2 separate regions of the Homo sapiens genome follow, and region 2 is linked to region 1. A link means that fine-mapping ties the variant in region 1 to the expression of a gene that starts in the linked region. Tissue or cell type: skeletal muscle. Region 1 holds a variant in brackets; the other region holds the start of a gene. All regions are shown on one strand. Distances are from middle to middle.

Region 1 (5,366 bases):
CCTGTGGTCCCTGCTACTTGGGAGGCTGAGGTGGGAGGATTGCCTGAGCCCCAGAGGCAGAGGTTGCAGTGAGCCAAGATTGCGCCACTGCACTCCAGCTTGGACGACAGAGTCAGATTCCATCTCAACCACCACAACAAAAAGGTGGTAGGAGGGAAACTTCCGAGGAGGGGCAGGATTGCTTGGGGGTGGAGACACTTCTCCAGCCATTGCTCTGGTTTTCTGAAGGGAGGCTAGCAGGGCCTGGTGCTAGTACTTGACTGCTCACTTCTGAACCAAGTACTTGGCAGGACTGAGCATTCCGCAGGGACTTTCAGGTCACCTCCTCCAGGGGTAATGGATCCGAGTTCCTTTGTGTCCTGTAACTTGAAGCTAAGAGGGACCCCTTGAGGAAGAATAAACAGAGGGGTGAAGGGGTCAGTGCAGGGAAGAGAAGGCAGTGGGGAACTGGGCAAGTAGGGAAAGGAGGGATGCTGGGCACGATGCAGTGCGATTCCTGCCAAAGAGAAAAGGTGCTTTGAATGAAGTCCAGGAAGCTTCACATCTGAGGCCCAGTGAGGAGAAGGGACTTGCCCAAGGCCAGGCCTGGAGGAGGATCTGTGTATCTGAATCTTCAGGCTGGCACCCAGATGGCTGATGCTGGTCACTGGCTTGCCAGGCTGGAAAGCAGGAGGTTGGGCTTACCTTGAGTCAGCCCTCCTCCTCCAGGAAGCAGGCAGACTTCCTCAGCTATGCCGGGTCTGTGTGCAGCTCTGATTTATTTCGAGATTTTCCTTGTCTGAATCAGAGATGGTTTTTCTTGGCAAATTGCGACTTTTTCAGAAGGCAAAAATGCAGTCTCCTCGTAGTCTGGGTCAGCGTAATCCCCTGTTTGTTTATCCAGGCTCAGTGTGTTTGAGGCTAGAGCCAGAGCCAGCCAGGGGTGAGGGTCCGACCCAGCCCAGACAGCTTTATAGCTGGATTTGCAAACTCCAGCGAGGTTCCAGCTCTGGATCTTCCTGATCCTTGGTGTGGTGTGGCTGGGTGCCTTGGGGTTTCTATGTGCACTACTTTAGAGGTGCTCATTGGGGGGGGGGTCCCTTTTCTGCTTCCCAGGACTTTATTTCAGAGTACAAGTGAAACAAGAGCCTGCTTCACATATCAATTTGGGAGGAAAGTCTAGATTAATGGAGAATTCTTTGAACTCCATTTTGCCTAATTAATGTACCCATCTGAGTAGAGTTATTAATATTATATATCTTCAAAGCCTGAATAGTTAAAGCATGCGTATATTAAATATAATGCTTCCTCTGCTTATGTATGTTCTTATTTTCTACACTTGTCATAAATTTAACAGTTGGGGTCAAGCCCCCAACTCTTAGGTGGTGTTGATGCTGGGATATTGGACAGGGAAAGATACCTTTCTGGAGAAGGAATGACCATCTGGAAGTCTCTGTACACTGGAGTGAAACTCTCTGGAGGGTCCTGATCCCTCAGGAAGGTCTCTTCCAGGAGCTGGGAGTCTCCCCGGGGTTGCAAGCTTGCAAGCTGCATAGGAAGAGACCTTCTTGAGGTGGCATCTCATGTCTTTATAGTGACTGTCCAGCATCTGCCACATCAGAGATCCCTGGAGGCTCTATGCTCGCCCATTATGGAAGGAAGAGGGAGGAGGCACCCCATTTGCTGAAGCCTTTCCCTTCCATTCCCTACTCCATCTGCCTCCCCCAAACAATTTCAGTCTGAGGGCTGTGGAAGAGTCCTAATAAACATAGCTACCATTTATTGAGTATTTACAGTGTGCCAGGCTACAAGCTTTACATGCATCATCTCACTATTCCTCATGACCAATCCATGGAATGAGCATTCTTATTTTACAGATGAAGAAGCTGAGGCTCAGAGAGGTTAAGTGACTTGCCTAAGGTCATGCGGCAAGTAAGTCATAGAGCTGGGATTTGAAATCCTGGTCTGTCTGATTCTAAACGCCATACTCTTAACTACTGTGCTACGTTGGCCACAGAGATGCCTGAGAAACCGAGTGCTTTCTAAGACATTGGGGTGTTTTAGAGACATGTCCTGGAAGCTGTGTGAGAGGGAAGCCTGGGGCTCAGGGAAGCCAGAGTATTGAATCTTGGAGGCTTCTTTGGGAATCCAAGCCCCTGGAGAAGAAGGGAGGGATATGATCTCCCGGGGGAAAAGTACAACTCAATAAAGAGCTTCTTGGTTCTGGATTAAACACAGGTGGAACTGCTTCTTACTGGTAATTGGGAGTTTGGCCAGATTGTGGGGCTTGTTTCTTGGTCGGACAGGGAAGGAGGCAGCCCCAGAGGCGTTAGGCTGACGAAGGAAAAGAGAGGCCTTCTTACTCAGAAACCTCTTCCTGGTGTCTGGGCCAAGCTAGGATCAGTCTCTTTTCTGGAGATGCAAGTAGGGTCTGGTACAGGACTTGAGAGTTCGGCCCCACATCTGTGGTGACCCTCCCCTAGGGAGGCAGAGACGTGGCTGGGGGAGCAGCCCCAACCCCTGTATCCACTTCAGAGATGGGCTGTGGAATCCACATGTGCTTCTGCTGCTTGGCTTCTGGATCATTCCTGATTCTGTTCCCACCTCTGCCCTCACCCCTTTCATCCCCAGTGACTGTACCCCTGACAGCACCCTTCCCACTCCCCTGACAGCACCCTTCTCACCCCCCTGACAGCACCCTTCCCACCTCTGCACCTCTCCAGCCAGTTACCGAGGGACCTCACTGCCCATCCCACCACACTGCCCGTCCCAGAAGGCCGTCAGCTGCCGGATCACCTCACTTGAGAGGTCTGTAGGGGCACTTGCGATGTGCCAAAAACATTGCTCAGGTTGGATGGATGTGCTCTTGGCATGAGGGTGAGCAGAAACCGAGTCCTCTTTTGTGCAACATTATGTTTAAATTGCTTGAACCAAACTGTGGCTTTGGGGCAGGGCTGTTTTTCCCCTTAGCAGCTGACTGGGTGCAGAGGAACAACACCGAGTCAGTTCCAGCCACTTTTTCTGGGTAAGTGATGGCAGCCAGGTCACTGGGCTGGGGTTTTAGGAGTAGGAGGTCTGAGGAAGGGCCCCTGGGTATGCAAGAGAAAGGGTCAGGAAATGGGAGTTCCTGGGCCTCAGGGCTTAGGCCTCAGAAAAGCTCTGTCAAGGGAGGACCTTGAGAGCCTGGCCAGCTAGTGGCTTCTGAAGCCGGCTTCCCAGGCAAGGACACTC[G/A]CACCCCAGTGCCTGATGCAGCTCTTGGCCTGGAGCTGGGAATGCAGGGGGTGACCTGATTCCATTGCATTTGCTGAAGTAGGCTGGAACCAGAGATGGCGACAGCTGCTTCCAGAATCTTCCTCTAAACCATCTCCTGTGTTGATTCTTCTTTTCCATCTCCACTGCCACAGTGTAGCCCGGGCTGCTGTCAACACCTCATGCTTGCATTTGTGCCAGTGCCTCTTAACTGTCCATTTTGCATTTATTCTCTTTCCCCTTCACTCTGTTCTGCCCTCTGTGGCCAGAACAAGCAGCTGAAAACATCAGTTTTATGGAGTGACTTTCCTACCCAAGCTTCCACGGGTTCTTTCTGGGCCACAGAACTGAGGCTCGGCTGTCTTGAGGGAGCCATCCCACCTTCACACAGACATCTGGCAGCAGCCACATGGGCGTCTCCTCTGTCTCCTGCGCACGCATGGCCGTTTTATTCAGGGTGCTCTCCTCTGCCTGACATGCCTTTCCTCGTCTCAGCCATGAGGCCAAATGTTATTTATCCTTCAAGGGGCAGCCTGAGTCCCGCTCCCTCCGGGCAGTCTTCCCAGCTGCCCCAACTCCTCCTTCTCCAAGACCTTCAGCTCCACTCGCTGTCGTCCTCTGGACAATTCCATGACAGGCGGGCAGTGTATAGCTCTTCCTTGTTTGTTGGTCTTTTCTCTTGACCCAGAGCATTGGCTTTTGGAGGAAGGAGCCAGATCATGTTCTTTGGGAGCTGACAGCAGGCGCTGGGTCAAGCCTCTAATGAGCACTTAAGAAATAATTGTTGAATTGATCAACAGGAAATAAGCTTAGATTGCAGCACAAGGGATTTAGGTTGGATTTAAGGAAGGATTTCTAGAGAGCCATTAGATGTTTAGAAAGGATGGCTGAGGGAGACTATGGCAGTACCAGGTCTTACCACAATTATGAAAAATAAGAGAAGATTCTCCTGAAAATCAGGGGATGTGGCGGTGGCAGCTGTCAAGGTTTACATGGAGAAAGGTGGGGAAGGAGAGAAAGAAATGGCCACGCTTTAGTGTCCAGTTAAAGGACTACAGACTTTTGGCTGGAATCTGCCTTTCTACTTCTGATTCTTGTCATTAGCTGAGGGCTTTCTTCACTTTTCCCTCCTGTGACGCAGCTTGAGTCAAGCTATACCTCAAGGCGTGGGATGAGAAGTGGAGCAGGTGTCGCGCAGGGAGCGGGGCACTGACCTCACCAGGGCCAAAGCCATGGAGCATCCGCCTGTTCTGGCAGTCCAAAGAGTGGCTTTGCCATCCCGTTCCTCAGAACCCGAGCTGTTCCTCAACCCTCCAACAGGTGCGTGGTGGGTTGTATGGTGAAGGCATGCTCAAGGGAACGGGAACACCCTTCTTCACCACTACCCTCTGTGTTTCGCAAAACACGAGTCCACCAGCGGGGTGCTTTGTTTTGCCTGCAGATGTGTGAAGCCACAGGCACAGCCCCTGAACAGGAACAGCTTCCTGAAGGGCTCAGGAGGGGGTCAGTGGCTTTATAGTAAACTTGCTGTTTTGCTGTAGAATGCACGACTATGTTACAGGTGATGAGCTTCCTCTGCTGCGCTGGGGCCTTCCGGGACTTTACTACCACGCCACCCTCAGCCCCACATGCCTCCTCCTGTCCCTGGGGCTGGGGGTGTGCTGAGTGAAAGGAGTGGTAGAAGTGAGGAACAAAGCCGCCACAAAGGCATCAGGAGGAATGGGGGCAGTGGGAGCTGGAGGAACCTTTCGGTGCCATTTGGGCTTCAGATGCAGCATTGTTCATACAGGTGCAGCCCTCTCCTCCGGCTCTCAAAGGCCGGATTAGGCACATTCAGTCTTTGTTCTGATATCACAGCCGGCCTCTGCTCTATTCATTCAAAGGCGGCTTTGTGGTCCTGGGGACCGACCCCTGTGCTTTGGGAGCCCCTGTGCCGGAAGATGGAGAGACACTGGCAGGGCAGTGCGGCTTTTTCCTGGTGACCACTTACAGGAGCTGTGATGGAGTGGGCGGGGGGTGCAGAGCAAAGGCAGCTCTGGCAGGGCTGGAAGTATTTTGGGGACGCTGGCAGCAGTTCTTCTGTCACCTTCTGTAAGCCGATGAGACATTCTGAGCAATTCTGACGGAAGCTGTGCAAG
Region 2 (5,366 bases), 51 kb before region 1:
GGAGGGTGAACACTTAGGTGGACACATGGATATTGATGTCAGTGCTGCACAGGGCACGGTACTGGACAAGTGTCACAAGTCCAGCTGGGCAAACTCCAGGATGCCAGGTCACAAGGGCTGTTTCCAGGAAGGGCTGACCCCTGATGTTTACATCCTTTTCCTCTGAAGCTCAGTGGAGCTCACCAGTCTCAGTTCACCTTGTAGGCCACTGAAGAAATTCCCAATTAGCACAGAGGAACGTCCAACCCTATGGGATTTGAGACTGGAGATTGCAGCCATCACATGATGGAAGCAGAATTAGACTCCAAAAACCTTGCCTTGAGTCTCGGCGTCTCGGCTCTGTCATTTGCCAGCCAAATGAGGCCAGGCAAGTCACAATCTCATGGAGTATTCACTTATCTACCTGTAAAGTAGGAATGTCTGACCTATTTCAGAAGATTGTTCTGAGGATAAAATGAGATGAGGCATTTGTCCTGTCCTCTTCAAATGCCATATTGTGATACTTTTCACTTAATTATTTTAAGGGCTTTAAAGACTCCATCTCCTTTACTTTTGACAACATCTCATGGCAGGGGATACTATTTTTATCCCCATTTTACAGAGAGAAAAACGGGACCCTGGATGAGTCAAGTGACTTCTTCAAGCTTATACCACTAGGTGGCAGACTCAGGATTTGAACCCTGCTGTACAGCTCCAGAGTCTGTCTGACCAAAGCACTCATTCCCAGTGGAGGAAAAGATAGACCATTCTTTTAGAAGTGCGCTTCATTTTTGTTTGGAGAACCACAAGTACTTTGTTATTGTTCCAGCATCCAGTCTGAGCTTTCTTGTCAGAGGGCAATGGGGAGAGGGGAAGTCGTTTAAGCAGGGAATGGTGAGTTCCGGTTTGCTGCTTAAAAGGATCACTGGCTTCTAAATAGCGAATAGACACACTGGCTGCCGTGTGGAGGTTGGATGGGGCCAGTGTGGAGAGAGGGCAAAACTGAATTCAGGAGTCAGGTGCGAAGCTGTTTCATGGAATCCAGGAGAGAAGCCCTGAGGGAGCAGAGCTAATCTTAGGACCTCTCAGACCAGATAGGGAGGGGGAGTGTGGCACTGATGCTTACAATCAAATTATAGAAAAGAATCCCTCCCTGCGAAGTAGCCCATACTGATGGAAGTAAGCACTAAAGGTTGTTCTCCACATAAGGAGATCGCTCTGGGTTTCATTTTGCGCCCCCCCGCCCCCTTCCCTGTGATTTCCTGGAGATGTCAGTCTCACTGAAGGCAGCTGAGCACCTTGCTCTGTTGAGGAGCCGGTGTGATGCAGCTGTGACCATTCCCAAGATGGCCTTCCGGGGATGGCCCTGGGCAGAGCCCCCCAACATCTGACTGAAGCTCCGCTGAGCTGTCCTCTCCAAGAGGGTCGGGCACCCGGGAGAGATCTCCTCTCCTTGTTCTACCCCATCTCTGGGATCTCTGCATCCTCAGACTGCCGCCTCCTCATCTATACTTTTCCTCCTTGTCTCCCATCAGGGGACCAGGGCCTCTCTGCCCGCCTCTTCCAGAGCTGCTGGGCTATAGAGAGGCTGCCCCTTGCCCTCCAGTTCAGAGGGGGAAGCTAGGATGCCTGAGTTCCAATCCTGGATCATACGGACCATAGGGCTGGGAGATGTGTGTGTGTGTGTGTGTGTGTGTGTGTGTGTGTGTGTGTGTGTGTGTGTGTGTAGGGGGTTACCGTACCCAAGAGGCCCTCCCCAGCGGCCAATGCCCAGCACACGCTTCACCTTGTCCCTTGCGACTTCTCCCGGGGCAGCCGCTGTGAGACTCAGGATGTCACCTCCCAGGGAGAGTCTTTGAAAGAAGTGGATGCTCCCATTCCCCACTCCAACGCCACAGCCCACCCTGTGCGGGTCATCCAGCGACTTCCCAGTTACTCTTCCCAGATGCAGCAGGGAGGCAGATCTCTCGGCGCCTTCGTGTCACAGCATTCTCATCTGATAAATGGGGCTAGGAGTATTTTCCCTGCCTACTTCACCAGGATGTTGGGACAATCACGAGCTTGAGCTAAGAAATATACATGCTTAAGGCATTATTATTAGCCAGGTGAGCCTTCTGGTGGGTGCCGGCTGCTGGGGCTCTCTCAGGCTTCCTCGGGCAGGAGTGCCGGGAGAAAGTTACTCTTTATCCCACTCTCTCCCGGGGCCTACTCCCGCGGAGCTCCTCGGCGGGGGGTTGACCACGAGTGGCTCCTCTTGCCCCTCTCCCATTGGCTTTCACCTGCCAGAGGGTCGGCTTCAACAGGCCTCTTGGCCCGTCAATCAGGCCCGCCGTGCTCCGCCCCGCCCCTCCCGGGGGTTTATAACGGGAATTCCCATGGCCCGGGCTCAGGCGTCCAACCTGCTGCCGCCTGGGCCCCGCCGAGCGGAGCTAGCGCCGCGCGCAGAGCACACGCTCGCGCTCCAGCTCCCCTCCTGCGCGGTTCATGACTGTGTCCCCTGACCGCAGCCTCTGCGAGCCCCCGCCGCAGGACCACGGCCCGCTCCCCGCCGCCGCGAGGGCCCCGAGCGAAGGAAGGAAGGGAGGCGCGCTGTGCGCCCCGCGGAGCCCGCGAACCCCGCTCGCTGCCGGCTGCCCAGCCTGGCTGGCACCATGCTGCCCGCGCGCTGCGCCCGCCTGCTCACGCCCCACTTGCTGCTGGTGTTGGTGCAGCTGTCCCCTGCTCGCGGCCACCGCACCACAGGCCCCAGGGTAAGTGCGCCCCCAGCTTTGCGCCCACCTGCGGAGGGAGGGGAGGTTGCTTCCCCCCTCATCCCTGAGGGAAGGAGGAGGGGGAAGAGAGATGTCAGAGACCTGTTGTCCTCTGTCTACTACCAGGTCCCCTGCGGGCTTGGTGAAGTTGCTGAAATATTTTTTTTCTCCCATTGGAGCCACCACCACTCTCCCTTTCTTGACCCACCATCCCTCCCCTGTCCCCGAACTGTCACTGGTGGGTTTTCTTTCCCAATCTCTTCTCTCCTGCATTTTGCTCAAGACCCTCAGAGGTGCCTCCTGCGTCGGAGAGAAGCTCGCTCTCCGCTCATGCAGGGCTTCCCTGTGGTCTCACGCTGGCGCCCGGTCCAGCGCGCTGGAGTTGTTGGCAGGCGGCGGGGGTTGGGACGGGGGCGGGTGCAGCTCTGCCTGGAGAGTTTTAGGTTACCCGCGAGCCACACAAGGACCTTGTGTTGTTGTTTTAAAAAGCGATCACTGCTCGTAAAACCCACAGCAGATAATTTTAATGTCACCTCCTGCCGGGCAGGCACTGGAAGAGGGTCAGAGGTGGGGTACTGTAAAGAGGTGGGAGGGGAGAGTTGCGCAATGTTCAGGGGTCTCTCCCCCTGGGTTCAGTGCTGGGAGGTTGAATTACTCGTTGAACCTTGGTCTGATTGGAGTTTCTGAACGACATGAAACCTGCCAATTCTGTGCACAGGACAGATTGTCCAGGGCATTGTAAAATCTCCTGGAACCGACAGTATTGTGTTCATTTCTGGTCTAGATTATCCCCGCAACACCCCCCACCAATTGGTCTAATAAAGAATTTCACTGCCTTGAAACATGTACTATTAAACGACCTAGTGGTTCTTTTGACCAAACTTAATCCAGGCAATCTCTGGCCAAGCATCAGTTTATGTCAGGGCAATTGACTCTTAACTGGCAGCCTGAGAGTCCATGTGAAAGTAGCTAGGATCTTTGTGAAAACAAGGTTGGCTCAACCAACTCGTGCTTTCTTTCTTGAACATCCTTGGGCCTGGCCCTTTACCACCTGTTCAGATTGCAGGTTGTTTATTCATAGCTTTTACTATATGAGAATCATCTTTATAGCTGTCGTGTGGAGAAAAAGTCTTGCAATGCTTGACAAGTCTTAATGACTGCCCAGATGCTGGGTTGATTACATCCAAGCCCAGGTATCACTGTGAGATCAGATTTGCAGCCATTTAGGAAAGAAAAGTGTTTGTCCCCGTGTTGGGCCAGCCCTTGCTTTTATGACCAGATGTGCAACAGCAGCAGTTAAAGTGTGGCAGATTAGATCCAGGGCGTGTCATAAATCCTCGACAGCAGGCATTCCCAAAGCTGGGGCAAGTAAGGGCTCCAGGAGTGACTTTTATGGATGCAGATGAGGATGCCTTTTAAATGAAGCTGCTTGGTTTGATATTAGGACTCAGAGCTCTTAAACTCTGAGGTCAGGCGAGCCATGCGTTCCCTCCAATAATTAGGAACAGTCAAGACAGAGATGCAGACCAGAGCACCCCGACTGAAATCTGGATGGCCGCCCACAGGAGGGTCGAAAGGAGAGAGGCCCTGAGACAAATGGTGGGGGGCTCGTTTGTTTGCTGCTGGGCTTGTCTAGAGTCTCAAGCCATATGGCTCTCCTTCCTGGCCTCCTGGAATCAGAGGAAGCAACCTTTAGGGGAAAGCTAGGGACTTGAGGGGAAATCAGGCACCGTGGTTAGGTTCCTTCCAGCTCCTCTAGTTTATTAATTTGATAGAAGTGATGGAACGTAAGCAGGAATTGTAAATAGGCTGGTGTATGTCCAAGCTGCTTCACACTCTCTCTCTCCTTCTTTCTTTTTTTCCCTCTTTCTCTCTCTCACTCAAATACATACATGCACAAACACACACACACATGTGCACACACATCTTGGTGTGTTTAGAAAGTACCAAGGAGAAGGTGCTGTCTCGAGCATGTGGTTACCTGGTTGTGTTTATAGATAACAATAAGAGCTACCACTTATGAACATCTGGGCTGGGCACTTTACATGATCTCTTACTCGAACGAGAACAAGAAGTTGGGTCTTTTAAAAGCCATTTTACAGATGACAAAGTGAGACTCAGGGTGGCCAATCGACTTGCCTGAGCTTCCAGTTTATATGGATTGAAAAGTTGTGTGCTCTCCCCACCACCAGGCAGCTATAGTGAGTGTTCATCCGAGTGATGCTGTTTCTGTTAAAGAAAGAGATGGCTCGATGAGAAATACAGAACCCGGATACATCAGGGGAGTCTGCAGAGAAATTGTTAATATTTTTTTGGTGTCTGTATCACTTAAGGCAAATGACTGAATTTCAACCTATCCCCAAAGACTCCAGTTCTTTTCTATGGCTTATTGGGGGCCTCAAAAGTGTAGCTCTGGTTGTTGAGAGCGGCGTCATCCGAGGAGCAGAAACATCTGGCTTGTTGCATTATTCCCTGTGGGCGCTCCTAAGTCTCTTCTGTTAATCTTTTGAGTGACAGAGGCTTAAGGATTGGCATCTTTTCCAGCTGGCTTTCTAGGAAACCAAGAGCATGCCCTTTCAGTTTAACTTTATCTGGCTCACTAATTGAGCTCCCCCGAGGCCTAGACCCCAGTCCTCG

The links.
Region 2: it holds the start of SMOC1, and the variant in region 1 is fine-mapped to the expression of SMOC1 in skeletal muscle (FUSION, PIP 0.95).

The regions. Positions count from the first base shown.
Region 1 is chr14:69,927,550-69,932,915 of GRCh38, forward strand. The region is part of intron 1 of SMOC1 (SPARC related modular calcium binding 1); the gene reads left to right. Among named protein-coding and RNA genes, the nearest start is that of SNORD169, 48 kb to the right of the region's middle. The variant G/A (reference allele first, on the strand shown) is at 3,211.
Region 2 is chr14:69,877,049-69,882,414 of GRCh38, forward strand. It overlaps SMOC1 (SPARC related modular calcium binding 1), which reads left to right and starts at 2,368. Exons shown (of 12, transcript NM_001034852.3): 1 at 2,368-2,729. The coding sequence starts at 2,631. RefSeq lists a silencer at 2,466-2,555.